Homo sapiens: one gene and its partners. The gene in region 4 interacts genetically with the main gene of each other region. Each region holds a gene or a part of one and is shown on either strand. Other genes may lie near its edges.

Evidence for each region.
Region 1: changes in EGFR (region 4) and EMG1 together harm fitness more than expected from each alone (negative genetic interaction), as found in Homo sapiens cells (one large-scale study listed by BioGRID).
Region 2: changes in EGFR (region 4) and PRPF38B together harm fitness more than expected from each alone (negative genetic interaction), as found in Homo sapiens cells (one large-scale study listed by BioGRID).
Region 3: changes in EGFR (region 4) and CD151 together harm fitness more than expected from each alone (negative genetic interaction), as found in Homo sapiens cells (one large-scale study listed by BioGRID).
Region 5: changes in EGFR (region 4) and EDDM3A together harm fitness less than expected from each alone (positive genetic interaction), as found in Homo sapiens cells (one large-scale study listed by BioGRID).
Region 6: changes in EGFR (region 4) and EIF3B together harm fitness more than expected from each alone (negative genetic interaction), as found in Homo sapiens cells (one large-scale study listed by BioGRID).
Region 7: changes in EGFR (region 4) and SAV1 together harm fitness less than expected from each alone (positive genetic interaction), as found in Homo sapiens cells (one large-scale study listed by BioGRID).

Annotation. Positions count from the first base shown.
Region 1 is NC_000012.12:6,973,208-6,977,174, reverse strand, and holds part of EMG1 (ribosomal RNA small subunit methyltransferase NEP1), read right to left. Parts: intron 2,837-3,967; coding exon 2,735-2,836; intron 2,624-2,734; coding exon 2,482-2,623; intron 2,086-2,481; coding exon 2,027-2,085; intron 1,947-2,026; coding exon 1,797-1,946; intron 1,480-1,796; coding exon 1,366-1,479; 3' UTR 30-1,365; coding exon of another isoform or gene 1-29. Other genes in the region: LPCAT3 (lysophospholipid acyltransferase 5), read left to right, coding at 1-29. UniProt on the Homo sapiens protein: S-adenosyl-L-methionine-dependent pseudouridine N(1)-methyltransferase that methylates pseudouridine at position 1248 (Psi1248) in 18S rRNA.
Region 2 is NC_000001.11:108,694,825-108,699,029, reverse strand, and holds part of PRPF38B (pre-mRNA-splicing factor 38B), read right to left. Parts: intron 3,329-4,205; coding exon 3,260-3,328; exon of another isoform or gene 3,250-3,259; intron 2,988-3,249; coding exon 2,836-2,987; intron 2,754-2,835; coding exon 2,693-2,753; coding exon of another isoform or gene 2,679-2,692; intron 1,470-2,678; exon of another isoform or gene 1,221-1,469; coding exon of another isoform or gene 1,181-1,220; exon of another isoform or gene 1,173-1,180; coding exon of another isoform or gene 1,167-1,172; exon of another isoform or gene 1,013-1,166; intron 427-1,012; coding exon 203-426; intron 1-202. UniProt on the Homo sapiens protein: May be required for pre-mRNA splicing.
Region 3 is NC_000011.10:835,952-839,489, reverse strand, and holds the end of CD151 (CD151 antigen), read right to left. Parts: intron 3,428-3,538; 5' UTR 3,421-3,427; coding exon 3,337-3,420; intron 3,240-3,336; coding exon 3,048-3,239; intron 2,722-3,047; coding exon 2,647-2,721; intron 2,241-2,646; coding exon 2,136-2,240; intron 2,031-2,135; coding exon 1,872-2,030; intron 1,549-1,871; coding exon 1,462-1,548; intron 1,358-1,461; coding exon 1,298-1,357; 3' UTR 659-1,297; downstream 1-658. UniProt on the Homo sapiens protein: Structural component of specialized membrane microdomains known as tetraspanin-enriched microdomains (TERMs), which act as platforms for receptor clustering and signaling.
Region 4 is NC_000007.14:55,196,544-55,200,748, reverse strand, and holds part of EGFR (epidermal growth factor receptor isoform a precursor), read right to left. Parts: intron 2,033-4,205; coding exon 1,886-2,032; intron 434-1,885; coding exon 336-433; intron 1-335. UniProt on the Homo sapiens protein: Receptor tyrosine kinase binding ligands of the EGF family and activating several signaling cascades to convert extracellular cues into appropriate cellular responses.
Region 5 is NC_000014.9:20,744,186-20,748,878, reverse strand, and holds EDDM3A (epididymal secretory protein E3-alpha precursor), read right to left. Parts: upstream 2,993-4,693; 5' UTR 2,887-2,992; intron 1,325-2,886; 5' UTR 1,299-1,324; coding exon 855-1,298; 3' UTR 499-854; downstream 1-498. UniProt on the Homo sapiens protein: Possible function in sperm maturation.
Region 6 is NC_000007.14:2,357,827-2,362,031, reverse strand, and holds part of EIF3B (eukaryotic translation initiation factor 3 subunit B), read right to left. Parts: intron 1,323-4,205; coding exon 1,130-1,322; intron 1-1,129.
Region 7 is NC_000014.9:50,636,833-50,641,037, forward strand, and holds part of SAV1 (protein salvador homolog 1), read right to left. Parts: intron 4,062-4,205; coding exon 3,918-4,061; intron 1-3,917. UniProt on the Homo sapiens protein: Regulator of STK3/MST2 and STK4/MST1 in the Hippo signaling pathway which plays a pivotal role in organ size control and tumor suppression by restricting proliferation and promoting apoptosis.

The DNA of each region.
Region 1 (3,967 bases), on a different chromosome or scaffold from region 4:
GGAAAGAGAAGTTAAAGAAGATGGAATAATCCATTTCCCTGGTAAGTTAATACAGCTAAACTAAAACTACCACCAGGTTACAGAATAGAGCAACAGACTGGAAAAAAACAATAGTATTAGAAATCTGGGGTGAATTCCAAGGATTAGCCTGGCTACTAAGGAACACAGTATGGGCAATGACTACTGTGACTTATTGAGGCATGCTAGGAAACATCTGGAAGGGCTATAGACCAGGAATTACAGGAGTAACTAACCAGCCTTCCAAACTCCTCTTGTCTTGCAGGTGGCCTGTGCGGGACTGGTGCAGAAACTACTCGTCTCCCTTTTCACAGCACTCCTTTGCCCCAGAGCAGAGAATGGAAAAGCCAGGGAGGTGGAAGATCGATGCTTCCAGCTGTGCCTCTGCTGCCAGCCAAGTCTTCATTTGGGGCCAAAGGGGAAACTTTTTTTTGGAGAAGGCGTCTTGCTTTGTCACCCACGCTGGAATGCAGTGGCGGGATCTCAGCTCACCGCAACCTCCACCTCCTGGGTTCAAGTGATTTTCCTGCCTCAGCCTCCCAAGTAGCTGGGAATACAGGCACGCCACCATGCCCAGCTAATTTTTGTATTTTCAGTAGAAACGGGATTTCACCACGTTGGCCAGGCTGGTCTCGAACTCCTGACCGCAAGTGATCCACCCGCCTCCGCCTCCCAAAGTGCTGGGATTACAGGCGTGAGCCACCGTGCCCGGCCCAAAGGGGAAACTCTTGTGGGAGGAGCAGAGGGGCTCACATCTCCCCTCTGATTCCCCCATGCACATTGCCTTATCTCTCCCCATCTAGCCAGGAATCTATTGTGTTTTTCTTCTGCCAATTTACTATGATTGTGTATGTGCCGCTACCACCACCCCCCCCATGGGGGGGTGGAGAGGGGTGCAAGGCCCTGCCTGCTCCACTTTTTCTACCTTGGAACTGTATTAGATAAAATCACTTCTGTTTGTTCAGTTTTTCACCACTAGCATTCCTGACTGCTCTCTTTCACAGTTCTTCTCCATCATCAGGGTTCTCTCCTTTAGCACATGGGAATCTGGGAGCTAAAGCCTGCCTTCAAAGCATGGAACCAAACTGCAAACTCTGTAACCTCCTATCTGTCCCTGAAGTCCCGGGGAACAAACAGTTTTACACCACTGGATACTTTAGGAACCCCAAAACAACCAGGTTTGCAAGAACAGTATTCATAGGATAAACAAATAGCAAATGTACAGCCTTGGCTTCCCCAAACTCCACAGTCTCAGTGCAGAAAGATCATCTTCCAGCAGTCAGCTCAGACCAGGGTCAAAGGATGTGACATCAACAGTTTCTGGTTTCAGAACAGGTTCTACTACTGTCAAATGACCCCCCATACTTCCTCAAAGGCTGTGGTAAGTTTTGCACAGGTGAGGGCAGCAGAAAGGGGGTAGTTACTGATGGACACCATCTTCTCTGTATACTCCACACTGACCTAAGAAAAGAACAGTTTTGTCAGCCAACTCTGTCACTCAGTAGCTGTTTCAGCCCTTCTTTAGGGCAGGAAAACTATGGCTGAGCTAGTATTTCAGCTGTGCTGTTGAATATCAAATCCCTACAAAGGATGAAGAAGGTCCTAACTGTGACTTCCAATTATGGCAGCAGCCCTCAAAGGATGTGCCCTGGGGCAGGGTGTGGAACTGTCATGTGTCTTCTAGCTCATTGTAAGCATTGTTAAAATGCCTACTGCTCTGGGAATTCTATACTAAGTTCAGCTCTACCAAGAATTTCAGGGTTGAGCCCAGACCTTACCTTGCCATGGGCAAAGGCCCCTACCACAAAAACAATAGGATCACTGCTGGGCACCAGCTCACGCACATCACTGACAACCGGGATGGAAAAAGAAGTGCCAACTTTCATACATCCAACTGGAAAGTGATCTGATACTGGATTCTTAATTACCTAAAGTAAAAAAGAGAGAAAAGTCAGCCCCAGAAACATTCCCAGAACCAGCCTTCAACTAACAGGTTTCAATACCTCACCTTCAAAAGCTTCTGGGGGCCATCAGCTGCTCGAACACTGAGCTTGTGTAAAAGTTGAACTAGAAGGGGGAAAAAAGAGTTCAGAGCTAGATGGAGACCACAGTCCTTCTGTCCAGTCATCGAACAAGGAAAACCCCATGGATAAGATGAGTTCCCTGTGTGCTTTATATCTAGACTGGACTCCTGAAATGTTAGGAACAAACAGTTGCCAAGCATATGGCTAGCTGTACAGTGATGGGTTCAGACTCCCTCTTTCACTCAGCCAGGAAGCTACTGCAAGAACAGGAGTGGAGTTTCCACAAACATAGAAAAATAATAACAGTCCTTGTCCTGGTATTAATCATGTTGTTCTCCCATTTTCTCGCTTAAAAATCCACATTTAGTTCTCCCTTTTCCTCTTCCTCCCTTCTTCCCTACTGACAAGTTCATTCTAACTTTGTTCTAAGGCTTCTTACCCATGAGGCCACAAAAGCGGTCAAAGGTTCTGGGAATTCGGGTCTGGGGATTCACTTCAATCAGAACATTCTTCTGTGTATGGATATAAACCTGTAGCAAGCCAGCTCGGTTCAGGGGACTATCCATCAGCATCAGCAAACTCTGAGCAAAGCAGAAACCGAGACATGGTTAAGGCTGAAGAGAGGCAGCACTCAGCTGCCAACCCTTCCATACAGAGGCTCAAAGGGTTGTGAGCACTGTCCCTGGAGTTACCTGGTGGGTGATATCTGGCCGCGCTTCCCCAGGGTCCCGTCCATTCTTCAACAATATAGACTTGTGCTTGTCACAGTTGAGTAGCTCATATGTCTTCCCTACCTGAAGAACAGGGAACATGACGAGAGAACAGCATAAGCTTCTGTTACCTAGCCCCGTGGTTCTTCAAGTGTGGTCCCCAAACTACCAGCAGCAGCTGCACCTGGAAACTTGTTAGGCAAATTCTCAGGCCCACCCTAGACCTACTAAACCAGGAACACTGGGGGTGGAGCCCAGCAAGCCCTTCGGGGGATTACTGTGCAGCCTTATTTGCACTCCCCAGTGAATGGTCTGAGAGGGAAACAGGAGGAAGGGCACAACCTGTGACTTCACATTATCTACTAATACACTGGATTTAATTAAAAAACCTGTGGCTGTTAGGCAAGGCCAATGAGACATCCTGGAACTAGGCAGGAGTTAGTAGTTAGCAAGGCTGAATGCTGTGTTTATTACAGGAGCAGTAAGTAGGTACTGTGCAAAATATCGAGTCACCACCCTCAGTTTGCGTACACCAAACATGCACTAAGTGAAGAGCTGCAAATCTGAACAAGAAATGTGAAGGCCGGGCGTGGTGGCTCACGCCTGTAATCCCAGCACTTTGGGAGGCCGAGGCGGGCAGATCACAAGGTCAGGAGATTGAGACCATCGTGGCTAACACGGTGAAACCCCATCTCTACTAAAAATATAAAAAATTAGCCGGGCATGGTGGCAGGCGCCTGTAGTCCCAGCTACTTGGGAGGCAGAGGCAGGAGAATGGCATGAACCCAGGAGGCGGAGCTTGCAGCGCCACTGCACTCCAGCCCGGGCAACAGAGCGAGACTCCATCTCAAAAAAAAGAAATGTGAAAACTAATGATGCAGGAGGCAGTTTAATCAAAGAAAACTCTCAGAAGTAAAAGGAAGAGGGGTTATTCCCAGTTTTAAGACGGGCATGGGGGCAGATGCAGTGGCTCACGGCTGTAATCCCAGCACTCTGGGAGGCCAAGGCAGGCAAATCACTTAAGGTCAGGAGTTCAAGACCAGCCTGGGCAACATGGCGAAACCCCATCTCTACTAAAAATACAAAAATTAGCTGGGCATGGTGGCACATGCCTGTAGTCCTAGCTACTTGGGAGGCTAAGGTGGGAGGATGGCTTGAGCCCAGGAGACAGAGATTGCAGTGAGCCAAGACTGTACCACTGCACTCCAGCAAGAC
Region 2 (4,205 bases), on a different chromosome or scaffold from region 4:
AAAATTTTATTGTTCTCATTTACAGATGCATAATTTTATAGAAAAAGCCCTGAAAGGAAGAAAATAATCTTTGGGGGGTAAAAGTGACAAACTAATAAAATGAACAGTAAAAACAAATTCCTAAGAACTTGCTATTTCTCAGAACCATTAATTTTGTATAAAGCATATATGAAAAATAAGCATAATTCAAGAGTGACATTACCTTGAACGTCTGCGTTCAACATGTCTGTCTATTTCCTCAGCACCTTCCTTCCCATCTTTCTTGATTTTTCTAGGTCGGGTTTTAATCTGTTGATCAATATTCTTTTGAACTGGAACTGGAATTCTTGGAAACAAGGTAGAAAACCACTCCAGTTTTGTGAGAAAAGATCGTAGCATTTCTCCAATGGTCATTACACAGCCTCCACCAGCCTTCACATCTAGGTCCTACAGAAACACAAAAGATACCCTAGCCGTCAAAAAAAGTATTTCCATATATACATGAATATTATAAAAATATTACCATCTTTGGAATCTCAATACAAAAAAAACTAACAGAAAAATTTTATTTTCATATCCTGATCTGACAATGAATGAACAGAAATATTTGGGCTTAGTGTGTGCATGCAAGTGAGAACAAACCCTGCAGCCTCACAGGCATAAAGGGAACTGATCTCACTCAGTTAACAATATGAAAAAGCCCCTTACATTTCTAAACTATGCGGAACGATTGACTTAAATTTACATTCCACATACCTACTATGTATTTATTTCTGTGGACATATTTGCACACATCATATACCTTGCACCATAACCTAGCTACATATGATCTACTTTAGATAATTCCTGTCTAAAGGTTATCTTTTAACAGCTCTAATATAAAATGAAGCCCTAATAAAACTGGAAGCAATAGCAAACCAACTGCCATGAAGCAGTGAGGTTTCTAATTTAGTTATGTAGAAAATAAATAAATGAACAAATAATTGGAAACGCATAATCCATGATGACCATTGTCTCTGAAAAGGGTCATTACCGCATGAAGGCCTTCTTGCTATGCCCTCTCACAGCTCAGGACATGTTAGTCAGCTATTGTCAGTCCCAAACCTATAGTGCAAGCACACAAGGAAAGTGAGATTTGTTATCTAAACAGGAAAACAAGAGCTAAAGGTAAAACTGCTTGCACTCACACACATTTAAGTGTTCAGATATACAGTATTTCCAAATATAATCGCTGCAGATATCTAAGGAAGAAAACAATAAGTTAGCTTAAATAGAGGACCTCAGATTTGTAAACACAATAAAAAACATAAAATAGAGGCATCCAGAAACAAAACCAATACAACACCAATTATGAAGAGGAACATGCTTTTTTAAAGACAGAAGGGAGAAGCACTTCAGTCTGAAAAACTGATCTAAAGATAAAAAGACCTTAAAGATTGTGATTTAAAACACGTTTTGCTTCTTCTGAGTGAAGTAACTCAGTTAACAGGCAAAAAAAAAAAAAAAAAAAAAGAGAAAAATAAAAATTCTCCATGTCTAAATGAGATTTTTTTTTTTTTTAGGTGTGCATGTAATAACAAAACACAATAGATTTCCATTAGAACCATCCTTTAATTCAATAAATTCTTTGGATGAACTCTGTAAATAGACTACTGACACATAGCACTCAAAAAGTCTTATGAACCTTAAAACACAAAGTAGTAGACTGGGTAGACATAGGGACAATACAGCTCATCATTTCATTTTTGACATGTTGGACTTCACCATGCAAGTAAATTAATGCATATATGATATTTTGTTTTGTTTTGAGAAAGGGTCTTACTGTGTTACCCAGGCTGGAATGCAGTGGCAATGATCTTGGCTCACAGCAAATTCTGTCTCCTGGGCTCAAGTGATCCTCCCACCCCAGCCTCCCAAGTAGGTGGGACTAAGATGCATACCTCTATGCTCAGCTAATTTTTAAACTTTTTTTTGTAGAGATGAGGTCTCACTATATTGCTCAGGCTGGTCTTGAACTCTCGAAGTGTTGGGATTACAATGTGAGCCACCACGCCCAGCCAATGCATACACGATTTAAATCTAACTTAGTATTTCAGATTTCAAATTAGGGAGACTCGAATTACAATTTAAAAAATTTCTTTTTTAAAGGTGTGTGTGGTGTACTAGGAGTCAGAAAACTGGAATTAAAATTTTGTCACCTTGAACAAGTCATCCAAACACTTAGCCTATTTATGTAACACCCAACTCTTCAATTCTGCACTTCTATGCAAGTGGGAATACTGATATTTGGAAGAAGCTAGAGGGTGAAGAACTGAAATGTTCCAGAAGAAAAAAAAGCTACAATTAGTATTCTATGTGCATATCTTTTATTATCTGTTCGATCTTGAGCATGCCCCATCTTGAAAAGTCACTATTAACTATACAATTCAGGATCAATACAATACACAGAACATAATTAAGAAGAGAAAATTTTCCAATAGTTACCAAACACATTTAAACAATTTTAAAACAAGAAAATAAAACTTCAGAAATTTACCCTAAAATACATAAAAGCCATCAGGTCTCAGTAAAAGGACATTAATTCCAAAAGTATCTCACTGAAATAAATTTAACTACAGGAAGTTCTTGAAGACATTAAACCACCAATAAATAAAAGATAATAAAAATATGAGAGTAATCAGAAGAAAACAAATTATTACCCTTGTTGACATACCTCTTCATCATCAAGGAAGGATTCAAACCAGTCCCACAGATCTGTAGGGGGCTGTGTATATCTAGAATTACAAAAGACTATTATTAAACACATGTGAATTAAAATGAGATATTTACTGGAAATGTACATAAATGTACGCTCACCTTATATACATAAATCCAAGCGCTCTAATATATGGAGAGTCTGTGTGTGTTATAAGACCCATCACTTGCTTTCGAGTTAACTTCAGGGTAAATAATTTGTATAACAGGCAAAATGCTGTAGAAACAATTCCTCCTGTTCCAACACCTCGAACCTTTAGGGGAAACGAGTTAAGAAAAAGTAGTAAAATAATTAACGGACTCTTAACACCAATTGATTAATCCTGTTAGGTATCAATAACAATCCATAATCCAGAACTAAGGAGCATTAAAAAGTAACACTTTTCTAACCCTATTTCACTGAACACTTGAATTTGGATTAAAAAAATTGTCACTCAAGTGTATAATTGACAGGCCTCTAGTTCTCTAAATATAAACTTAGTTATTAGACACAGAAAAACTGAAAAATGCACGTACTTCTACTTACCCCTCCGCACATCCCTGTCTGGCCCGCTGTTTTCCTGCTTCCTTTCTCCCATGGTTCAACGTGCGTGACCTGAAAATAGAAAAGAGGAACACAACAAACATTCATACTTTGAATTTGTTTAAAAGCCTGATAAAAGTAAACCCAAGTCCATAATAGAGCAGCTCTTCCAAAATTATTTTGGCATTAAGTATATGTTTACTGATATTAAGTGTGTAAATCATTTTTGGAAAAACTGCTTAGACATTTAGACAGCACCCATAAAGCTACTAGGGTTTAACAAAACCTTAATAGCTTTGCAGAGGAGAAATCCCACTCAACTAGCTTTATAAAGAGCTGATATCTACATCTGGGAGTCAGAAAATTTCTATAGTCTCACTTGGTTGCAAAAACTATTTGGTAATATTTTAACTTTGATAATATTTGACAATTTAACTTATGGGTTGCTTAACATTTTCCTTTAAAAATGGATTTAAGTCTCCAATTTAAAGCAAAAAGTATTAACGTTAAGCATTAATTTAAAAACTTCAAAACACCTTCAATAGTTCAATTTTATTGTAATTTAAAATCTACATTATAAAATTAAGGAAAATTACTTGAAGAAAATTTTCTAAAACAGTAACGAGTTACTTGTGATGCAAAATTATGGAACTTTTTATTTGTACATTTTTTCCACCAGGGTCAGGTTTATTCCTGATTAAAGATAAAATTACAAAGGCCACACTTACAGAGATCATTGTTGTAATTAAGCTTCAGCCTAATTATGTGTGAACCAATCCAATTATTCCCCAGAATATAAATTGTGTCAAAAACTGAGTGTGAATAGTCACTGGCATATACTAAGTATCATCAAAGATGATACAGTATCATATTTGCTAAGAGGAACATCTTACAAAAACTAGTCCTTATCTAAAAATAGCAACAACAACAGCAACAACAACAAAAGAAT
Region 3 (3,538 bases), on a different chromosome or scaffold from region 4:
GCCCTAAGGAGGCCCTGCTGTCCAGGCAGTGCTGCCAGCAAGCACCCCAGGTCAGATGTCCCTGCTGCCCAGATATCTGGCGTGGTGTCCTCTGGTAGGGGAGAACGGGTCTGCCTGAGGGTCTACAGTTCTGAGCCTTAAGGACAGGAACCTGGGCAGTGGGGGGCACAATCAGTGACCGAGCCCTGGCTCCCATCTCCAGGGTACCTCTGCCAGACACCAGGCTCTGGTACCTCCTACCCTCTGGCCCCCAGCAGGGCCTATAGGCTCCTCCATGTAAACCCCCTCACCCTACTGCCCCCACCCCACCTGCCTGACACCTCTTACCTGGGCACGGCCCCCAGTCTGCACCCTTCCCACGTCTGCTCCCCACCATGGCCAGAAGGGTTTTGGAAACCATTTTTCCTCTCCCCCAGGGGCTCTGAACACACCATCTCACCATTTAGGAACATGTTCAGTTCTTTCTGCTGAGGCCTGTGCTCAGCTGTCCCTGGCATCAGACCTCCCTTCCCTGGAGCCCCATGGGGGGTGTGTCCTCCTGGCTCTGCCCTTCTTTGTCCTGACACTGGGCGGGGCGGGGGTGGGTCTGTCTGCCCTGCTGGATGCGAGGGCCCTGAGAACAGACCACCATCTGTTACCAGCACAGCGAGCTCGTCCATCTGCTCTACAAGTGTTTATTGAGCACCTGTATGTGGCAGGGATGGTTGTAGGCATCTGGGTACAGCAGTGAACAAAACCAGGAAGGCCCTGCCCCGCAGAGGCACATGAACAGGGCAGTGCACAGTGACCACGTGGCATTTCGGGTGGTGGTGACTGCGGTGGGGAAGACAGCAGGGGCGCTGTCGAGGGAGACGAGGGCTGGGTTGGGAGGGGCAGAGGCCCAGGCCCAAGGGTCAGAGCTCACCTGGCTTCCCCAACTGGGATGGGGCCATGTGGCTGCAAGGCAAGGCCCCAGTTCCTGAAGGGCCTGGGGTGTGAAGGGTTTCTCCCCCTGCTGGGAACGCTCGGCCTTGCGCCACTCAGCAAGGCCCCTTCCAACCTGCATCTGACCACCAGGCAGAGAGTGTGTCTGGGGAGCCCCACAAAACACCCCCCAAACTTCGCCCCGCCAGCCCCCCTCACCTCCCCTGCTGGGCATTGGTGCGCAGCAAAAGGCACTTGAAGCTGCCTCTGAGGTTGGGGTCCCCAGAGGTTATGGTGATGGCACAGGGTGGGTGTCATCAGGGAGCCCAGCCCCTGGTACTCAGTGGTCTCAGCTCAGTAGTTGGGTGCAGCAGCAGCAAGGCCCAAGGCAGGGTCAGTAGTGCTCCAGCTTGAGACTCCTGTACAGGCAGCACGTGAAGATCATGCCAAAGACCTGTGTGCAGAGCCGGGTGGGCGTAAGCAGACGTCATGGGGCCACCAGCCACCGCCCTGCCCCGTGTCCCCAACAAGATGACCGCCACCCCCATGTGCCCTCACCTGCACACAGGCAATGCCGATCCCCACAGCCCCAATGACCCTCAGGTGCTCCTGGATGAAGGTCTCCAACTTGGTGATGCAGCCGCCCTGCGGGGCGCGGATGGGTGTTGAAGGCGGGCCCAGGGGGCACCTCCCACTGGCCCCTACTGCCTCCAGCCTCCAGGGTGTGGCCAAACCCACCCCTAGCACCTAGGCAGCCAGGCCACCAACAGCTCAGCCAGCCACTGGGCTGCCCACCCACTTCCTCGTAGATATTGGAGGTGTGGTCTCACTGCCCACATCCGGCCACTGGGGTGACCCCCCACCTCCTGGTAGATATTGGAGGCGTGTCCCACTGCCCACAGCCAGTCACTGGGGTGCCCCCCCACCACCTCGTAGACACTGGAGGCATGATCCCGCTGCACACCCACCTCCACCTTGTAGATGTTGGAGGCATGGTCTCGCTGCCCACAAAGAGCCACCACCGTCTTGCAGCAGCTGTCTGGGACCACACGGCCACCGGCCTCCTGTGAGCGGATCCACTCACTGTCTCGCCAGTCCTGTGAGTTGTTGCTGCCACAGCAGTGGAACTGCATCAAGAACAAGGCTGGGGTTGAGACCTGGGGCCAGAGGCTCCTGCAGAGGTCCAGGGAGGCCCTGGGGATGCACGCGCCCTCCCAGCACCACCCACCCACCTCCTGCTGCAGCTGGTCCACAGCGCTGGTCACAGCCTCATGGCCCGGCTGGTGGTAGCGCTTGGTCATGGTGTCCTTCAGGTTCTCCTTGAGCTCCGTGTTCAGCTGGGGTTGGGGTGCAGGAAACTTCAGCCTCAGTCTAAGACCTTCCAAGGTGGGGCTGGCAGAGCCCCAGGATGGCCGGTGGGGAGGCCCGGGGCCCAGCTCAGAGCCACAGGGAAGGGCTGAGGTCACACCTCGGCATGAGGGGAGGTTGGGTGGTGCCAGGACCGTCACCAGGGTGACAATGAAGTGCGGCAGAGGCAGAGAGAGCTTCTGGATCCCCTGGACACCTGCCTGACCCCATGTGCCCCTGCAGAGACCTAGACCCCATCTCCAGGGCCCAGTGGCACATTGGTTAGCTCTGGGACCATGGGGGTGGGGGTTGGGGCTAGCCACGCGTGTGCATGTGTGTGTGTCCGCCCCGCCTGTGCATGTCTGTGTCTCTGAATGGCCTGCCCAGGCCCCTCACCTGCTGGTAGTAGGCGTAGGCGAGGATACCAGCGATGATCTCCAGCAGAAAGATGATGAGGAGCAGGATGAAGTACTGGGGGGGGCAGCACAAGGGCACCCTTGTTCTGAGGCCTAGTGCCTAGACCTAGTGCACCTCAGAGCAGAGTCCCCACCCCGGCTCCCCAGGCTCCAGGTGGGGGCTGAGGGGCGGCCACCCTCCCTGAAGCTTTCTTGCGGAGCTGGTGTCTTCCCTCAGCTGGTCCAGCAGGAACGTGGGGACCCACAGGACTAGGCAGGTGTGGAAGGACCGTGACCCCCCCCCCAGGTGAGCACAGCAAGGCACAGGTTCAAAGCCTGCAGCGACAACCTCCTTGGGCCCATCTGCACCACCCCCACCCCGTGGCCCTGCGCCCTCCTGACCAGGCGCAGCAGGTTCCGACGCTCCTTGAAGGTGGCGCAGCAGCCCAAGACCCCAGTCACCATGACGACAGTGCCCGCCACCACCAGGATGTAGGCTGTGGCCAGGTAGGTGCCTGAGGCCAGCAGGCTGATGTAGTCACTCTTGAGGGCCAGCGTCCAGATGCCCACTGCCATGACAGCCAGGCCAGCCAGCTACAAGCAGTACACAAAGGTCATCGCATCTGCCCAGGTCTGATGGTGGCCCGGGAGGGGTGGGGGTGGGGGTGGGGGCAAGGCGACCCCTCCTCACCCAGAAGCAGCAATTGTAGGTAAACAGCAGGTACTTGAGGCAAACGGTGCCACATGTTGTCTTCTTCTCGTTGAACTCACCCATCCTGGGGCTGAGGAGGCAGGGGAGGGGTCAGCGGGGCCACAGCACCGGGCCCCTGACTGGGAGACGGATAGGAGGGGACACAGGGCCAGGCGCGGTGGCTCACGCCTGTAATCCCAGC
Region 4 (4,205 bases):
GGGTGTGAAGCCACGTCTGCCTGACACCAAAGCCCAATAGACCATGCTTCTCTCTTAGACCCAGCTGAGGCTTTGGCTAGCCGGACAGTGAGGACGAGCACCAGAGGAGAGTTCAGACGGGGAGGGGGAGATGGAGTTGGGTGGGCCCCACTCACGGATGCTGCTTAGTTCACGATGTGGCCTGCGCCTTACTGAGGCTTGCTCTAATGCGCTGGAGGGTTTAATAATGCGATCTGGGACACAGGGAGGCCAGGCTGGCATGTGACAGAACACAGTGACATGAGATGCTCATTAGAGGGACTCTTCCCAATGGAAGCACAGACTGCAATTTGTACCTGAATGACAAGGTAGCGCTGGGGGTCTCGGGCCATTTTGGAGAATTCGATGATCAACTCACGGAACTTTGGGCGACTATCTGCGTCTATCATCCAGCCTGGGGAAGGAATGAGAAAAAACAGTGCAATTAGAACACTGGAAGAAATGATAAAGATGGCATTGCTTAAAGAAGGCATTGGTGATGCGACACTTCCAGTCAAATAAGTGATGAAAGAACCAAGTCTTTGTGGTAGACTTTTCTGTCTTGGCCAGCTAGTACTGGTTACTGTTTAAAGACCATGCCAGCACTGTACATTTGAATCAGAATAACAATAATGCCCTCTAGTTTTTCTACGCCCACTCTTCCTGGGGTCAGCATCCTGTGTTACGCCTGAGGGGATGGAGCAGTGTGGGTCTGTACAATTGCTCTCCATGAACTATCCTGACTGCAGGGTGCCCTGCACCAAGGTCCTCACTCAACATCCACCCTTAGCATTCCTTCAGGTAGGAAACCAGATGCAACTTAGAAAAATAGGCTTTAAAGAATTTGGGGTTGGGACTGGGCCCCTACCCCCGGCGTCTCCAGTACAGCACATACCCAGTGGGCATGCATGCAAGTGAGAAGGCTGGTGGGCATGCATGCAAGTGAGAGGGCTGGCTGTGCTGGCAACTTCCACAGGAGGACACACTGTTAACTGTGCTGCTGCATGTGACTACCCAACAATCTAAATCCAGATTAAACAATTTGGAGGTATGGCTACTGCCTGGAAATCCTCATGCCTCTTGAGGGATCACATTTATTTTCCATCCACAGCATATCAAGCTATTTTAGGCCAGACTGCTATGTGACCTTAGACAAATCACGTGGCTTCTCTGGATCACAGCTTCCTTAGCCCAAACCAAGGAAGTTAAAAAAGATCAACTCTGTGGCCTAGAGTTCAGAAAGGCATTAATATTTACATTAACTTGGCTCTGTCATATTCCCTATACAACTTTCTTTTGCAAATGCTCATCCCATGCATGTAATGCTACCTCCAGAGCCCACTGCACTCGTGAATCTGGTAGAATAATAGCATCAATCAAATTACACACTCTTATTTAGATTGAAATGTTTAAATGCCACACTGCAGAGACTTCACATAAATCCACTGGTTTAAAAGGTTTAAGTCAAAGCAGAAATGTTGACTCTATTAGCCTTATGTTGTTACTCACTGCCATGCATTTAAAAACATTCAGTCTCTCTGGTAACAGGCTTCAAAATATAGGGCAACTCGGTATTTCATTGAGTAACTCAGCGAATAGAATATTTTGGTGTAATGGCTTGCGGAAGACTTTAGTTTTATTTATTTGCTTGCAAACATGGGCAAATGTCAGGTCATACTGCCCAATGAGTCAAGAAGTGTCTTTAAAAGAATGCTTGAAGGGGTATTTACAGATGTTTCTGGATTTGTGTGCCTGCCTTAAGTAATGTGATGACATTTCTCCAGGGATGCAAAGGCCTCAGCTGTTTGGCTAAGAGCAGCCACCAAGGCTCAGCTAGGCAGTGTGGACAGACCCACCAGTCACTCACACTTGACCATGATCATGTAGACATCGATGGTACATATGGGTGGCTGAGGGAGGCGTTCTCCTTTCTCCAGGATGGAGGAGATCTCGCTGGCAGGGATTCCGTCATATGGCTTGGATCCAAAGGTCATCAACTCCCAAACAGTCACCCCTGAGAGGATGAAGCAAGAAAAGAAGGCAGTGGGATCATGAATGAACAATCACAATCCCTTGCTTTAGTCATCATTACTGGTTACTGTTTCTTGATGTTTAGAAACCTACATTTCTGTAGTCTTGGGCAATTTGCTTCAATGCTGGAAGCCTCAGTCTACCTCTCTATAAAGTGGGGTAATAGCAGTATCTGTTTCACAGGATTGCTGTAAGGACCCAACAAGATAATACAACTGAAATGCTTAGTGCAATGCCCAGCAAGTAGTAAGTGACTGATAAGTGGTAAACTTTGGTAATTAACAATAAAGACAACAGTAACTCTACTAGCATAAGTATTATGCTCCAGACAGGATACACACTCAGTCACCTGCTCTGAGGGACCTGTATCTGCAGAATGAGGAAGATGCAGATTCTGAACAGGGCTGTAAACTGCACATTTTTAGATCATAAAAAAATTGGAAATGAAAAAGCTTAAGTTCCATTTGATAAAAATAAAAACCTCAGGAAGAAACTGAATCCCTGAACAGACCAATAATGAGCTCCAAAATTGAATCAGTAATAAATAGCCTACCAACCAAAACAAAGCCTAAGACTAGATGGATTCATAGCCAAATTCTACAAGATGTACAAAAAAAGCTGGTACCATTCCTACTGAAACTATTCCAAAAAAATTGAGAAGGAGGGACTCTTCCTTAACTCATTCTATGAGGCCAATGTCATCCTGATACCAAAGCTTGGCAGAGATACAACAAAAAAAGAAAACTTCAGGCCAATATCTCTGATGAACATAGACATAAAAATCCTCAACAAAATACTGGCAAATCGAATCCAGCAGCACATCAAAAAGCTTAAGCCACCACAATCAAGTCGGCTTCATCCCTGGGATGCAAGATTGGTTCAACATATGCAAATCAATAAATGTGATTCACCACACAAACAGAACTAAGGACAAAAGCCACATGATCATCTCAATAGATGCAGAAAAGGCTCTCAATAAAATTCAACATGTTTAAAATTCTCAATAAACTAGGTATTTAAAGAACAAACCTCAACATATTAGCCATCTATGGCAAACCCACAGCCAACATCATATTGAATGGGCAAAAGTTGAAAACATTCCCCTTGAAAATTGACACAAGACAAGGATTCCCTCTCTCAACACTCCTATTTAACATAGTATTGGAAGTCCTGGCCAGATAAATCAGGTGAGAGAAAGAAATAATGGACATCCAAACAGGAAGAGAGGAAAACAGCTATCTCTGTTTGCAGATGACATGATCCTATATCTAGAAAACCCCATAGTCTTGACCCAAAACCCCTTAAGCTGATAAACAACTTCAGTGAAGACTCAGTTGTACAAAATCAATGTACAAAAATAATTAGCATTCCAATATGCCAACAACAGTCAAGCTGAGAACCAAATCAGGAATGCAATTCAATTCACAATTGCCACAAAAAGAATAAAATACCTAGAAATACAGTAAACCAGGAAAGTGAAAGATCTCTACAATAAGAACCACAAAACACTGCTTAAAGAAATCAGAGATGACACAAACAAATGGAAAAACATTCCATGCTCATGGATAGAAAGAATCAATATCATTAAAATGACTATACTGCCCAAAGTATTTTATAGATTCAATGTTACTCCTATCACACTACCAATGAGATTCTTCACAGAACTAGAAAATACAATTTAAAAATTCACATGGAACCAAAAAAGAGCCTGAATTGCCAAGGCAATCCTAAGCAAAAAGAACAAAGCTGGAAGCATGATGCTACCTGACTTTAAACTACAGGGATACAGTAACCAAAACAGCATGGTACTAGTACAGAAACAGACATACAGACCAATGAAACAGAATAGAGAGCCCAGAAATAAGGCTGCACACCTACAACCATGTGATCGTTGACAAAGTTGACAAAAAAAAAAAAGCAATGAATAAAGGACTCCCTACTCAATAAATGATGACTAGCTAGCCATGAAGAAGATTGAAACTGGACTCCTTCCTTACACCATACACAAAAATAAACTCAACATGGATTAAAGACTTAAATGTAAAACCCCAAACTATAAAAACCCTGGAAGACAACCTAGGTAATACCATTCTGGATATAGGAATGGGCTAAGATTTCATGATGAAAACACATCAAGCAATTGCAACAAAAGCAAA
Region 5 (4,693 bases), on a different chromosome or scaffold from region 4:
TCTCGGCTCACTGCAACTTCTGCCTCCCAGGTTCAGGAGATTCTCCTGCCTCAGCCTCCCATAGCTAGAACTACAGGTATGTGCCACCAAGCCTGGCAAATTTTTGTACTTTTAGTAGAGACAGGGCCTTACCATGTTGGCCAGGCTGGTCTCAAACTCCTGACCTCAGGTGACCCACCTGTTTCAGCCTCCCAAAGTGCTGAAATTATGGGCATGAGTCACAGTGCCCAGCCCACTCCTTAAAACTGGATTTTGACCCTTTTGATTATTTCAAATTGCTACCACGATGAGTGCTTACATCACTACTTGTCTCCAGTTTAGCACACAATCATTTATATCCACATGATATACATAAACATATCACATACATTAGACACAGACACATAAAGTGCACATTAAACCCCTTGCACAGCCATAGGCAAAAATAGCCTAGATCACCGATACCCATACCAATCACACGATACATACTCTGCACACATAACATATATAAGCGTCACATACGTTAGAATAATATATTTTATTTAAGAAAAGGAGGGTCGTTCAGCTTGGGTAGGTATAAAGAGAGTCAATATCAGGAAAGTCTTAGGTTAGTCGAGGACAGATGCCATATGAGCTGAATCTTGGAAAAAATGTGGGTGTAAATTAGGCAAATTAGGACAAAATTGTATTACAGATACAGAAACCACACAAAGATTTGGTATCAAGAAATCACGAGGTACATAAACTCTAAGTAGTTGGAAAACACTGACACATAAATGTAAGCGGGGAGTGGCAGGGGCTATTGATGGAGGCAGGGCCCACCACTTTGGAAGCACTGAATACTCTACCAATATCTGAGGATGTGCATAGACTTTCTAGTTGCTGATAGGTTCTATAATCCTCAGGTCTTCTATGTTATCAACATATCCATCTACGCCACAATGGAATTCAATGTAGCTGAAGCTTCTGCTCTCTGTGTACCTATTGTTGTACTTCTCCCAGTGACACTCGAGTACTTTGAGGGCACCTGGGGCCCATACATATGCATTTCTATATCGGTCGCTCCCCTTCTCATTGATGCATGCACGCTGAATTTTGAACCATAAGCTATAGATGAACATATGAAAGCTCTTGCCTTTCAGAGCCTCTTTTTCTCTCATGAGGACATCACATTTGTACTCTTTGAATTCTCGACTTGGACTTAAGTAATGAAGTTTTATGAATTCTCTCCAGTAAATGTTGTTACTGTATACACACAGCCTGCAAAGGATGCAAAGCAGGGCCAAGAGTATGCCCCAAATCTTTAGAGAGGATGTCATCTCAGTCACCACGTCCACCTGCGTGTCTACAGGGAAGAGAAAGAAAAGCATTAACCAGACTATACTCAGAGAGCTGAGCTCCACCTTAAAATTCCTTTCCCTGCCAAGCAGGTACTTGGGCACTATATTGCTATTTGGTTCCATATTAGAAGATGATGATTCTCATTAAAGAATACAGTTTCTGGGCTGGGCACAGTGGCTTATACCCGTAATCCCAGCAGTTTGGGAGGCCAAGGTGGGTGTATCACCTGAGGTCAGGAGTTCGAGAAACACCGTGGCCAACATGGTGAAACCCCATCTCTACTAAAATACAAAAAGTAGCTGGACATGGTGGCTGTAGACCCAGCTACTCGAGAGGCTGAGGCAGGAGAATCGCTTGAACCTGGGAGGCGGAGGTTGCGGTGAGCCGACATCACACCTCTGCACTCCGGCCTGGGTGACAAAAGCAAAACTCCGTCTCAAAAAAAAAAAAAAAAAAGAATACAGTTTCTAAGAACTAAAAATATGCTTTAGCCTGTGAGAGCTAACACAAATTTGGAAAATATAGATAAAGTACCTTTTGAGAATTTCAAATATCTCCTGTCTACCCTGTCTTCTACCCAATTTGAGGAGCCAATCACTATCGAGCTCTCTTTTACCAAATAAGCTCTCAGGAGATCATGTGTCCAATAGAAAAATGACATTTTAAGCGTATTGTCTGCAAAGTGGAAAAGATTGTTGCATTTTAAGGGAATGTAGAAGATGAGTAACTACTTGGGAGGTGGTTCCTAGGCAGAAGGCATTGATTCTGGAAACCACAGCCCAGGCTGCAATTGCACTTCTCTGAAAAATGATGTTTTTCCAACCTTGACTTCCTTATAACACTTTCCCCAAAGTCTGGGTGAAACATGTGATCATTATTAACTATCGGCATCCCTTCTCAGAGGCCATTTCCCTAATTACTGCTATTACAAATGATCTTCATTTGTTAGAGCTTATTGACAATGCCATCATAAAAGGACATCAGTTTAGAACTGTTGCTGTAATCAATCAGGCACCAAAACTAAAACAGTCCCCCGCAGAGCTACTGTGGTCACAGCATAGGATGTATGGTCGTTTGAAAAAGTTATCTCTTTACCAGCTATCTGTCCTCATTTGCCATGAGGAGTATTCCTGGCCCTACTGAACCTCTAGCCTGATTCATAGCTCTGAGTATCGGTGTCCTCAGATAGGCCTAATCACAGCTCCCTACAGACCTGCAAGAGTCTAATGAGATGCAAGCATGTGAGAGCACTTCTAAAGATGTCAAATGCCCACATCAGGCACAGGGTTCCTCATCTGTGGAACCCTGTCCTGGTGATAAAGGCCTACACAAGATAGAAGAGTAGGATGCAAGCAGCTTTAATGCACTGTGCTTAGGAGGACTGGCGGTGAAGGAAGGGAGGGGCAGGGAAAAGCCTGTATCAGTGGGACTGAGGCTAACCAGAATTCAGACCTTTGTTTTCCATGATTTGGATCCTTCTCCATTGTTTGCTATCTAAAAGTTCAATCAGCCTCCTTCCAGTGTTCCTGGCTGTCCCCCGAGCAACCTCAGCAGAGCCCTTCTTACCCTACTTGGACTCTGAGTTCAGGTCACTGATTGTAGTGGGGATCAGCATGTGGATCTGAAGAGCAGAGTCTGCGTCCTCCTCCTTTTCTCAGAGCCCTGGAAATCTACAGCAGTGGAGAAAGGAATAGTAGGGGGAGCTGCAGGGCTCCAGCTGATTGGTAGCCGAGGTGGTGATGGGGAACAGCCTTATTATGTGAACTTGTCCCTGTATCGTTTCATCTGGAACACTTGGGCTCACTCAAACAGTAGCCTCGAGCAAAGGCTACAAACATCAAAGGCTGAGCCCTGGGTACAAAATGATTGCAAGACCCTAGGTGACCCCAGAAAAGGGTTATCTGGTGCTATCAGGAGACAACCAGAGACTTAGCTCTGCTCTCAATTCTAACAAACTTCTGGGGAAGTCCCTGGAGGGTTATGCTATGTTACATGGGAACTTCACTGAGGAAAGCCACCTTTTTTTTTTTTTTGAGATGGAGTCTCGCTCTGTTGCCCAGGCTGGAGTGCAGTGGCGAGATCTCGGCTCACTGCAAGCTCCGCCTCCCGGGTTCACCCCATTCTCTTGCCTCAACCTCCTGAGTAGCTGGGACTATAGGCGCCTGTCACCACGCCCAGCTAATTTTTTGTATTTTTAGTAGAGACGGGGTTTCACCGTGTTAGCCAGGATGGTCTCGATCTCCTGACCTCATGATCTGCCTGCCTCAGCCTCCCAAAGTGCTGGGATTACAGGTGTGACTCGCTGTGCCTGGTCTTTTGCCTTTTTTTTTTTTTTGACAGGGTCTTGCTCTGTCGCCCAGGCTGGAGTGCAGTCGCACAAACACTGCTCCCTGCAGTCTCAACCTGCCAGGCTCAAGCAATCCTCCCACCTCAGCCTCTTGAGTAGCTGGGACTATAGGCATGCAACACCATGCCTGGCTAGTTTTTTGTATTAATTTTTGTAGAGACAGGGTTTCACCATGTTGGCCAGGTTGGTCTTGAACTCCTGAGCCTAGCTAAGCCTCAACACATCAGCCTCTAAAAGTGCTGGGATTACAGGCATGAGCCACTTGGTCAGGCCAGAAAATCACTTTTAATGTTGTGAATTGTGAGACCTTCATTGAGAGGTGAAAGAATATCTAGTGAACACAGTGGCCAAATAGCTATGAATGATTAGGTAGCCAGTATCTGAAATTTCTCTACTCAGTTTTTTAATTATAACCTTTAGCTGTTTGGTGACACTGTACTGCTTACTATTAAAATGTCACATAGCCTGGCCATAGTTTCTACAATGCTACTATACGTAACATCTGACTGTGAAGTATAGGTCACAAGGTGCTGGCTAAGTTGTTTTTCAGGACCTCAAGATTCAGTCCTGAACTCAGCTCAAACTGACAAGACCACAACTTCTTCAACTGAGTTTGTGCAAGTGTTCAATGGTTACCTTTAACATCACAGCCGGAATTTTCCACCATATTTTCCATGCCAACTCCCCACAAATTGGCAAATGTGACCAATACTGGTTCATCAACACTAGTCAAAGTTACGATTTATGAATAAAGTAAGACTCTTGCAAATCTTTTCTAACAACACTTCCAAAGGCTGCTCCTAGCCAAACCACCTTAGTTGATTTTCTCACTGGGCCACCTTATTGTTGGAATGACAGAAGGTTCAGTTTATATCCAGAACTTATCTTCAAACCCCCACTCCTGTGAAGCAGTCCTTGAGTAATAGAAAATCATGTGCTGATAGACTGGATGGACGGGAGATAGTCTTAGAGCAGGTTCTGTGCATCCTTCTACTCTCTAGGTCTTTGGGGGACAGGGGAGAGCAA
Region 6 (4,205 bases), about 53 Mb from region 4:
GCCAAGATCGTGCCACTGCACTCCAGCCTGGGTGACAGAGCAAGACTCTGTCTCAATAAATAAATAAATAAATAAATAAGCAAGCAAGCAAGCCAGGCGTGGTAGTGTGCGCCTGTAATCCCGGCTACTTGGGAGGGTGGGGCAGGAGAATTGCTTGAACCCGGGAGGCGGAGGTTGCAGTGAGCTGAGATCACACCACTGCACTCCAGCCTGGGCAAGAGTGAGACTGTCTCAAACAAACAAACAAACAAAAAAAACTTAAAAGTAGTCTAATATTGTGTATTACAGGCAAGATTAGAAAGAAGCTCAGAGAGGCCGGGCGCGGTGGCTCAGGCCTGTAATCCCAGCACTTTGGGAGGCCGAGGCGGGTGGATCACAAGGTCAGGAGATCGAGACCATTCTGGCTAACATGGTGAAACCCCGTCTCTACTAAAAATACAAAAAATTAGCCGGGCGTGGTAGCGGGCGCCAGTAGTCCCAGCTACTAGGGAGGCTGAGGCGGGAGAATAGTGTGAACCTGGGAGGCGGAGCTTTCAGTGAGCCGAGATTGCGACACTGCACTCCAGCCTGGGCGACAGAGCGAGACTCCGACTCAAAAAAAAGAAAGAAAGAAAGAACCTCAGAGAATGTTTCATTATAACACGAGTAACTGAGGGTCAAGAGGCCATCCTTCAACTGACTGCCCAACACAGAAAATGCAGCAGCATTACCTGTATTTGATAATTCTAGAAACTAAAACTATTCTAGTTAGTTTTTACTTTATTTATTTATTTTAGAGACAGAGTCTTGCTCTGTCACCCAGACTGGAGTACAGCTACGTTATCATAGCTCACTGCAGCCTCCAACTCCTGGCCTCAGGCTTCAAGAGTGTTGGGAGTTTATGCATAAGCCACCATGCTGGCCTATTCTAGATAATTTTAAAAACTTTAAAACCTTAACTTAAAAAAACAAACTTTATCATCTTCTCATTCACTGCTCTGGATAGCTTCCAGCTGAGGGCGGCCTGAAGAAGTGAACGGCCCACGTGCCTGGGCAAGGCAGGAGCTGTGTTAGTAAGGATCTCCTGCAACACTCCCTCATCATGACGTGCCAGACACAGATGATACTTCTCCAACAGGAGAACACTCACCCTTTTGTCTTCCCATCCTCTTCAGGATAAAAATCATTTGTGATTTTCCCAAACTTGGAAAAGATCTTGTGGATGACATTTTTGAGTTTCTCAAGTCGGTCGGGTCCCACCTGAGGGACATTGTCCACTACAATCACCGAATCGATTCCATCTGCTTCCTGGGGCCGATCTTTGAGTACATCTCCCAGTAATTCTGAACAAGAGAGATTTTTCAAATGATCATTTTTACCAAGAAAAACATTAATACATTAACTGAGCACACTAAACAAGTCTTCAAGAAGAGACAATGAATTGTCTAAATGCTTTCACTGTGAGCAAAAGAAATCCTAACCCTAGCTTGTTTCAGATTTTAAACATGACAGCTGGGGGGACTGGAACTCTCCTCTCTCCCTTTGATGGAAATGTAAACAGTCAAGACAGGTCAATTAAGTTCTGGTAATAACCAAAGACTACAGGAGAATAACAGTGAAAAGCTTTTAACAATGCACAATGCAAATGAAGAAGACCATCTCAAGAATATCCACTATTAGATCTTCCAGAGATGCCTAGATTTTGAAAGGTTTGTTGCAACATCTAGGCAGGCAGAATCCCATCCCAATGTCAATGAAAACTGACTTTTTACAGAAGATTTTAGCAAACAAGTAAATATTTAAATGCTCAATATATTCACAGCACATTTGTGCTGTGAATACAAATTACCAGAAATTATTCAAGGAGGAACCCTCTCTCGAGTGAACTGGGATGAAAGTAGTAACTCTTCTCCCACCTCCTGTTCCCAGTGATTTTCATGTTTTCAGGCCGTGAACTGGATGGCCATTCACAGGGGATGGGGAAAAAACCCAAAGAGGAAGCGCGTCTGGGGTGAGCTTCCCCACCTCTCTCCGCTGCAGAGCCCACCACCACGCACCTTCGTTCAGAACAATCTTTACCCAATATTCCTTAGGTTAAAAAGCTCTAAGGATAAACAACTGAACTGCAGGAGACAGGGATGTGACAGTGTCTTTCCTACTCACGTAACACTCAACACAACGCCTGACACCGGACGTGGGTGTCGCATCAAGCAGTTCTCCAGGGGCCACCAGCTGGGTGTCCTCTAACTTAATCCAATTCAGACACTATCTACCAGGAATTAGCATCAGATCCCACAGGCTGAAGGCTCAGCCCCAAAGACTGGCCCCCATTTCAGATGGCAGTCGCAAGTAGTGGGCTGTCACCTCCGGTTCTGACCGACAGGCTACAAAGCAGGGCTCCCACTATCCCTCGCTTCTTGGGTTCCATTAATTTACTGCAGCAGCTTACAGAATTCAGAGAGCTAGGTTTGCCAGCTTATTATAACGGACGTTACAGAGGATATAGACGAAAAGGCAGATGGAGGAGAAGCGCAGAGCCTCCCTGTGCTCTCCAGGCCACCACCCTGCAGAAGCCTCCACCTGTTCCGCTGCATGGAGCCCCTGAACCTGGTCCTTTTGGGTTTCTATGAAGATCTCATTATAGAGGCGTGATTAATGACATCACTGAGCACCGGTGATCAACTCAACTTTCAGCCCTCTTCCTTCTGGGTGGCAGGGGGAGACCTAAAAGGTCCCACCCTCTAATCACGTGGTTGGTTCCCTGGCAAGGAGCCCCAGCCATCAATCAAGTCCTCGTCTACAAAAAGACACTTACCACTTTGGAAATTACAAGGGTTTAGACGCTGAGTGCCAAGAGCCAGGCAGAGCCCAAATACACATTTCTTAATTATATCACAAAGAGCCTTTTTGAAAAACACTATCAGGGCAGAGACCGGCACTTAAACTAGGAGACTGGAGAATATACAAGCTCCTGAAACAACTTTTTTTTTTCTTTGTAAAGAGACAGGGTCTTGTTATGCTGCCCAGGCTAGCCTGGAACTCCTGGGCTCTAGCAATCCTCCTGCCTCAGCCTCCCAAGTAGCAGGGACTACAGGTGGGAGCTGCCACCCCCACTGAGATTAAATAACAGTATTTTTTTCTTAGTGGTAGGTGAAGCTGTTCTTGATGTGATGAAATGCCTCGCAGGGCTGCTGGAAAGCATCACGTGTCAGAATTTAGAACACGGCCAGGCTCAGTGGCTCACGCCTGTAATCCCAGCATTTTGGGAGGCCGAGGCAGGCAGATTACCTGAGGCCAGGAGTTCAAGACCAGCCTGGCCAACATGGTGAAACCTGTCCCTAATAAAAATACGAGAAAAATGATCCAAGCATGGTGGTGGGTGCCTGTAATTCCAGCTACTGGAGAGGCTGGGGCAGGAGAATCGCTTGAACCCAGGAGATGGAGGTTGCAGTGAGCCAAGATCATGCCACTGCACTCCAGCCTGGGAGACAGAGTGAGACTCCATCTCAAATAATAATAATAATGATAATTCCAACATACTAAATATGCAGATGTCCGAAAATATTCTTTACTGTATTTATTCTCAAAAGTTGGCTGGGCATGGTGGCTCACTCCAGCGACAGAGCAAGACTCCGTCTCAAAAAAACACTTTCGGAAATATTGAAAACTGACCCAGCATGGTGGCTCACGCCTGTAATCCCAGCATTTTTGGAAGCCAAGGAAGGCAAATCACATGAGGCCAGGAGTTCGAGACCAGCCTGGCCAACAAGGCAAAACCCCATCTGTATTAAAAATACAAAAAGTAGCCAGGCATGGTGGCACATGCTTATAATCCCAGCTACTTGGGAGGCTGAGGCAGGAAAATCGCTTGAAGCGGGGAGGCAGAGGCTGCGGTGAGCCATTGCACTCCAGTCTGAGCAAGAGAATGAGACTCTGTCTCAAAAAAAAAAAGGAAATATTGAAAATACTGCCTTAAAAAATAATCGCCGTTTTATTTTCAACGATGCTAAAATTGAGACGAACAAGAGAAAAAAAAAGGGAAAAAGGCAGTTGCCAGTCACTGCAGTGCCGGACACCCTGCTATGGAAACTAGTCAAATCCTAGGGTAACTTCTAAAGCACTTACCATACAATTAAATAGCCTGACAAGCCTGATCTGAATTTATAAGGCTGCAATAAAAAGCTCAACTTTTACACAAATTGGGTACTCCTTCCCACAAGCTCAAA
Region 7 (4,205 bases), on a different chromosome or scaffold from region 4:
GCATGTTATACCCGAAATTATACCTCTCAAATCATACTGCAGAGCAGACATAATAGGAAGCTTTGATTGCAAACTCTAGCATTATTTTTAATGATCGTTTATAGTATTTCCTACCCAGTGGTTCTTTGATATTATACCATTTTCTTTCAAAAGGACTGTCTAATATTTTAAAATGAGATTTTAAAAAAGGGAGATAGAAAACATACCGAGCAGTTAGTGTGAGCCACTATACTTGGCATTTTGACATGTTTCTATTCAACTTGAGTATGTGTAACAGAAATGTCAGTAATACAACATGCAAAAACTGGAAGGTAAATATATTTAATTGGACTGCCAATTTCACTCAGTTACTTGAGAGCTGCAAATTTATTAATAGATTTAGATTTCTTTGGTAGGAAGCTCTGTTCTTTTTAATGGGAAACTCCAACCACTTGTGAACATAAATTAGAGTGATACTGTAAGAAATACTCAATGAGCCTCCATGAAGAAACAGTTATAAGGTATTTCTTAGAACATCCACCATTCTTGTAACTTAAGATTTTATGTGCTCCTTGGAAACAAATTCATAATTCCTAACAAAAAATCTTAATCTCCCAGAGTTAGCTAAGAGGCAATTCAGCAATGTCTACTAAGTCAAGATGGTTACCATTTATACCAGGTGAACTACAACAATGTTAAACTAATCTATCATCTGTGTACTTTCTAGCAAGGAAAACAAAGAACAAAAATAAGATGGTAAATATTATACTTATTTTTAAGACACGAATATCATTCTGTATAAGTATTCAAGTTTTGTCTAAAGGAAGAAAAAATCTTCAAACAATTTTGTCAGTTTTTTTTTTTTTTTTTTTTTTTTTAAGAGATGAAGATCTCCTATGTCTCCCAGGCTGAAGTGCAGTGGCTAATCACAAGCACAATGCCACTACTGATCGGCACAGTAGTATTAACCTGCTCCCTTTCCAACCTGGGCCAGTTCGCCCCTCCTTAGGCAACCTGGTGGTCCCTGCTCCTGGGAGGTCACCATACTGATGCCAAAGAGTACAGACATCCGACTGGCATAGTGCATCACAGCCCAGAACTCCTAAGCTCTAACAATCCTGACTCTGCCTCTCAAGTAGCTTGGATTACAGGTGCACCACCATGCCTGGCCAAGTTTCTGACTTGCCAATCAGCATTCAGCATCAAGAGTACGATTATGGGTAGAAGCAACAAAATCAGATTAGAGAAAATCCTTCTGGGGGAAGAAAGTGCACTCCAAGAAGGGCACAGATGTGAAAAAACTGCAAAGCATGGAATGGAAATCCTATTCCAAATTCTTTCCTCTGTTGCTTCTACATAGTTACTACCCTTCTGCCTATAATCACCTAAGTGTTCCTTCTTTTTCTGAAAAGTATAAACTCCCATTCTTTCCTTCTTAACTAGCCAAGAAATTTGCTTCCACAAGTTTAACTTTTAGTCATTTATACTGTATATACACAGGTAAATCATTCCGAAAATTGGGTGTAAAACACTCCAGTAGTCCATGCTTCTAGCATCTCTTTCACTCTGTTTTTCCTAGGGCAGTATTCTATTCAAATACTACTTATAAATAAGCCATATATACAAATGCCAGTTGCTATAATGCTACCAAAAATAACCTGTCCACACTGCATGCTGACTTCAAGATCAACAGTGCTGCTATCCTCAGCTCCAGGTATCACCATGTAGCCTAAGTCCCCTGCACCCACCCGCCATAACACTGTGTCCACTCCTCCCTCTTTTTCACCTGTATCCAGAGCAGGGTCAATGGTGACACTGCAGGACTGCCAAGCCACTGGAATAAAAAATACCCCTGCCACACACTGCTGAGGACTAGTGTTTTGGTGTGTGTGTGAGAAATAACAGAAAGTAAATATGTTCTTGACAATGTTTTTGCTGTCAAAGATTAAATTTTATTTTATTATATTTTATTTTGAGATGGAGTCTCGCTCTGTCACCCAGGCTGGAGTGCAATGGCGCAATCTTGGCTCACTGCAACCTCCGCCTCCCGGGTTCAAATGATTCTCCTGCCTCAGCCTCCCGAGTAGCTGGGACTACAGGCGCGTGCCACCATACCCAGCTAATTTTTTGTATTTTTAGTAGATACAGAGTTTCACTGTGTTAGCCAGGATGGTCTCGATCTCTCGACCTTGTGATCCACTCGCCTCAGCCTCCCAAAGGGCTGGGATTACAGGCATGAGCCGCCGCACCCGGCCTAACTTTTAAAATTTTATCCTATAGTTCAGCTTGAGTACAGTTATACCAAGCATTATAGACTTTTGTGAGCAGACACAGGAACATAACTTTACAAAAATTAAATACAAATTTAAAACACAGTCTGTTTCTAAATCAAGTTTTAGAAGTATATGCAAAAATTGTGTTGGTAAATTACTGTGAGAGATAGGATTAAAGAATTTCAGGATTAAAGAATTTCAGATTCTCAATTGTCTGAAAAACAAAAGGAAGAAACATGCAAATTTTTTTTGCAAAAATGTCTCTTTTTGTTGTGATAATTGATTCTCATTATCTAATTCATAGATAACCACTCACCCTTTGTTGATAGAATATTAACCATTTCCATCCTCTTCAGCAACATTAATTAGAATCAACTAGAAAGCAACAGGCTTCCAGACCTCTTGTTTAAGTTTTTAAGCAGTAAAGAAGTATAGTACTTGCTCCCTTTTTGTCAGTCTGGCCCATTTTGGAAGAATTACAACCTATTTGCTAGTTTCCTTGAGTTTTATAGTTAGCTCACAGAACCACAGAATTCAAAAAGACTATAATCTTCAGGAATCTGTTTCTTTCTGTAAGAAACCAGGAATTCCATTTAAGTACTATCTCTTCCCCCAAAAAGGAAAGATTATGCTATTTCTTATTAAACATGACTATAGAGTAGAAATAACATACAACAGAAAGAATAACTCTCCTCAACCATATCCACCCCCAGAAATACTAAGGTTAACAGTTAGGCACATATTCTTCCAGATTTAAGGAAAATAAAAACGCATACAGATATTATGTACTATTTAGAATCAGCATACAAACATACAGCTGTAGGTCAGGTGGTATCAAGGGACAAAGAAAAGAGGAAAATAGGAAAGAAAATGCCATCTGCTATCATTCCTTTTTCTGGCACTAGTAGGGGGGCAGTCAGGGTCTCTCATGCTCTGTCACCCAGGCTGGAGTGCAGTGGCACAAGCATAGCTCACTGCGGCCTCAAACTCCTGGGCTCAAGCAGTCCTCCCACCTTAGCCTCCCAAGTAGCTGAGATCACAGGCATACACCACAGCATGCTGCTAATTTTTAAATTTTTTATAGAGACAGAGTCCTGCTATGTTGCTCAGGCTGAACTTGAACTCCTCAGATCAAGCTATCCTCCCACCTCAGCCTCCCAAGTACTTGGGACTACAGACCATGCAAAAAGCCTGGCTAATTTTTAAAATTTTTCTGTGGAAATGGGGCTCTCGTTATGTTGCCTAGACTGGTCTCGAACTCCTGGACTTAAGAGATCCTCCTGCCTCAGCCTCCCGAAGTGCTGGGATTACAGGTGTGAGCCACTGTGCCAAGCCCAGGTCCTTACTTTTATCACAAGTACTGTATCACTTATTTACAAATTAATCTTCTCCTATGAGAATGTAAGTTTCTTACTTGTATCCCTAATAGCAGAGGCCCGCACACAAAGAAATGAAGATTCTATAAATGTCTGAAGAACTAATATTTCTAATTAATGATTTTCACACATTATAAACTATGACATCCTTTATTCAAGTCACGTATTACTTAGAAGCCGAATATTATTAAGAGTAAAATATGGCACACTACTTGGATCGAGCAGCCCAGAGACTCCATTCAGCCCTTCACTCACTCCTCAAACAAATTTGTGTTGTAAATGTACTTACTTCACAGGGGCTCGTGCGTAAACCTGAAGCCAGTCAGGAATTTCTGCAGTATGATATGGATTTGCAGGTACCAGAAGGGACTGATTTCTTTCAGTTTGCTGTGGCTGGTATGTGACAGGAGGTGGTTGATCATACCGAGGTACACTAAGAAGAAAGGAGTGACATTCTTTAGGATAAAGGTCTTAAAATCTAAACAAGAAATTATAAAGAACAAATAATACTTAAGCATTTTTCAGTGTGCCTTCTGTCCAAACTGACTTACACCACCTGAAAGGTAATGTATTTTTA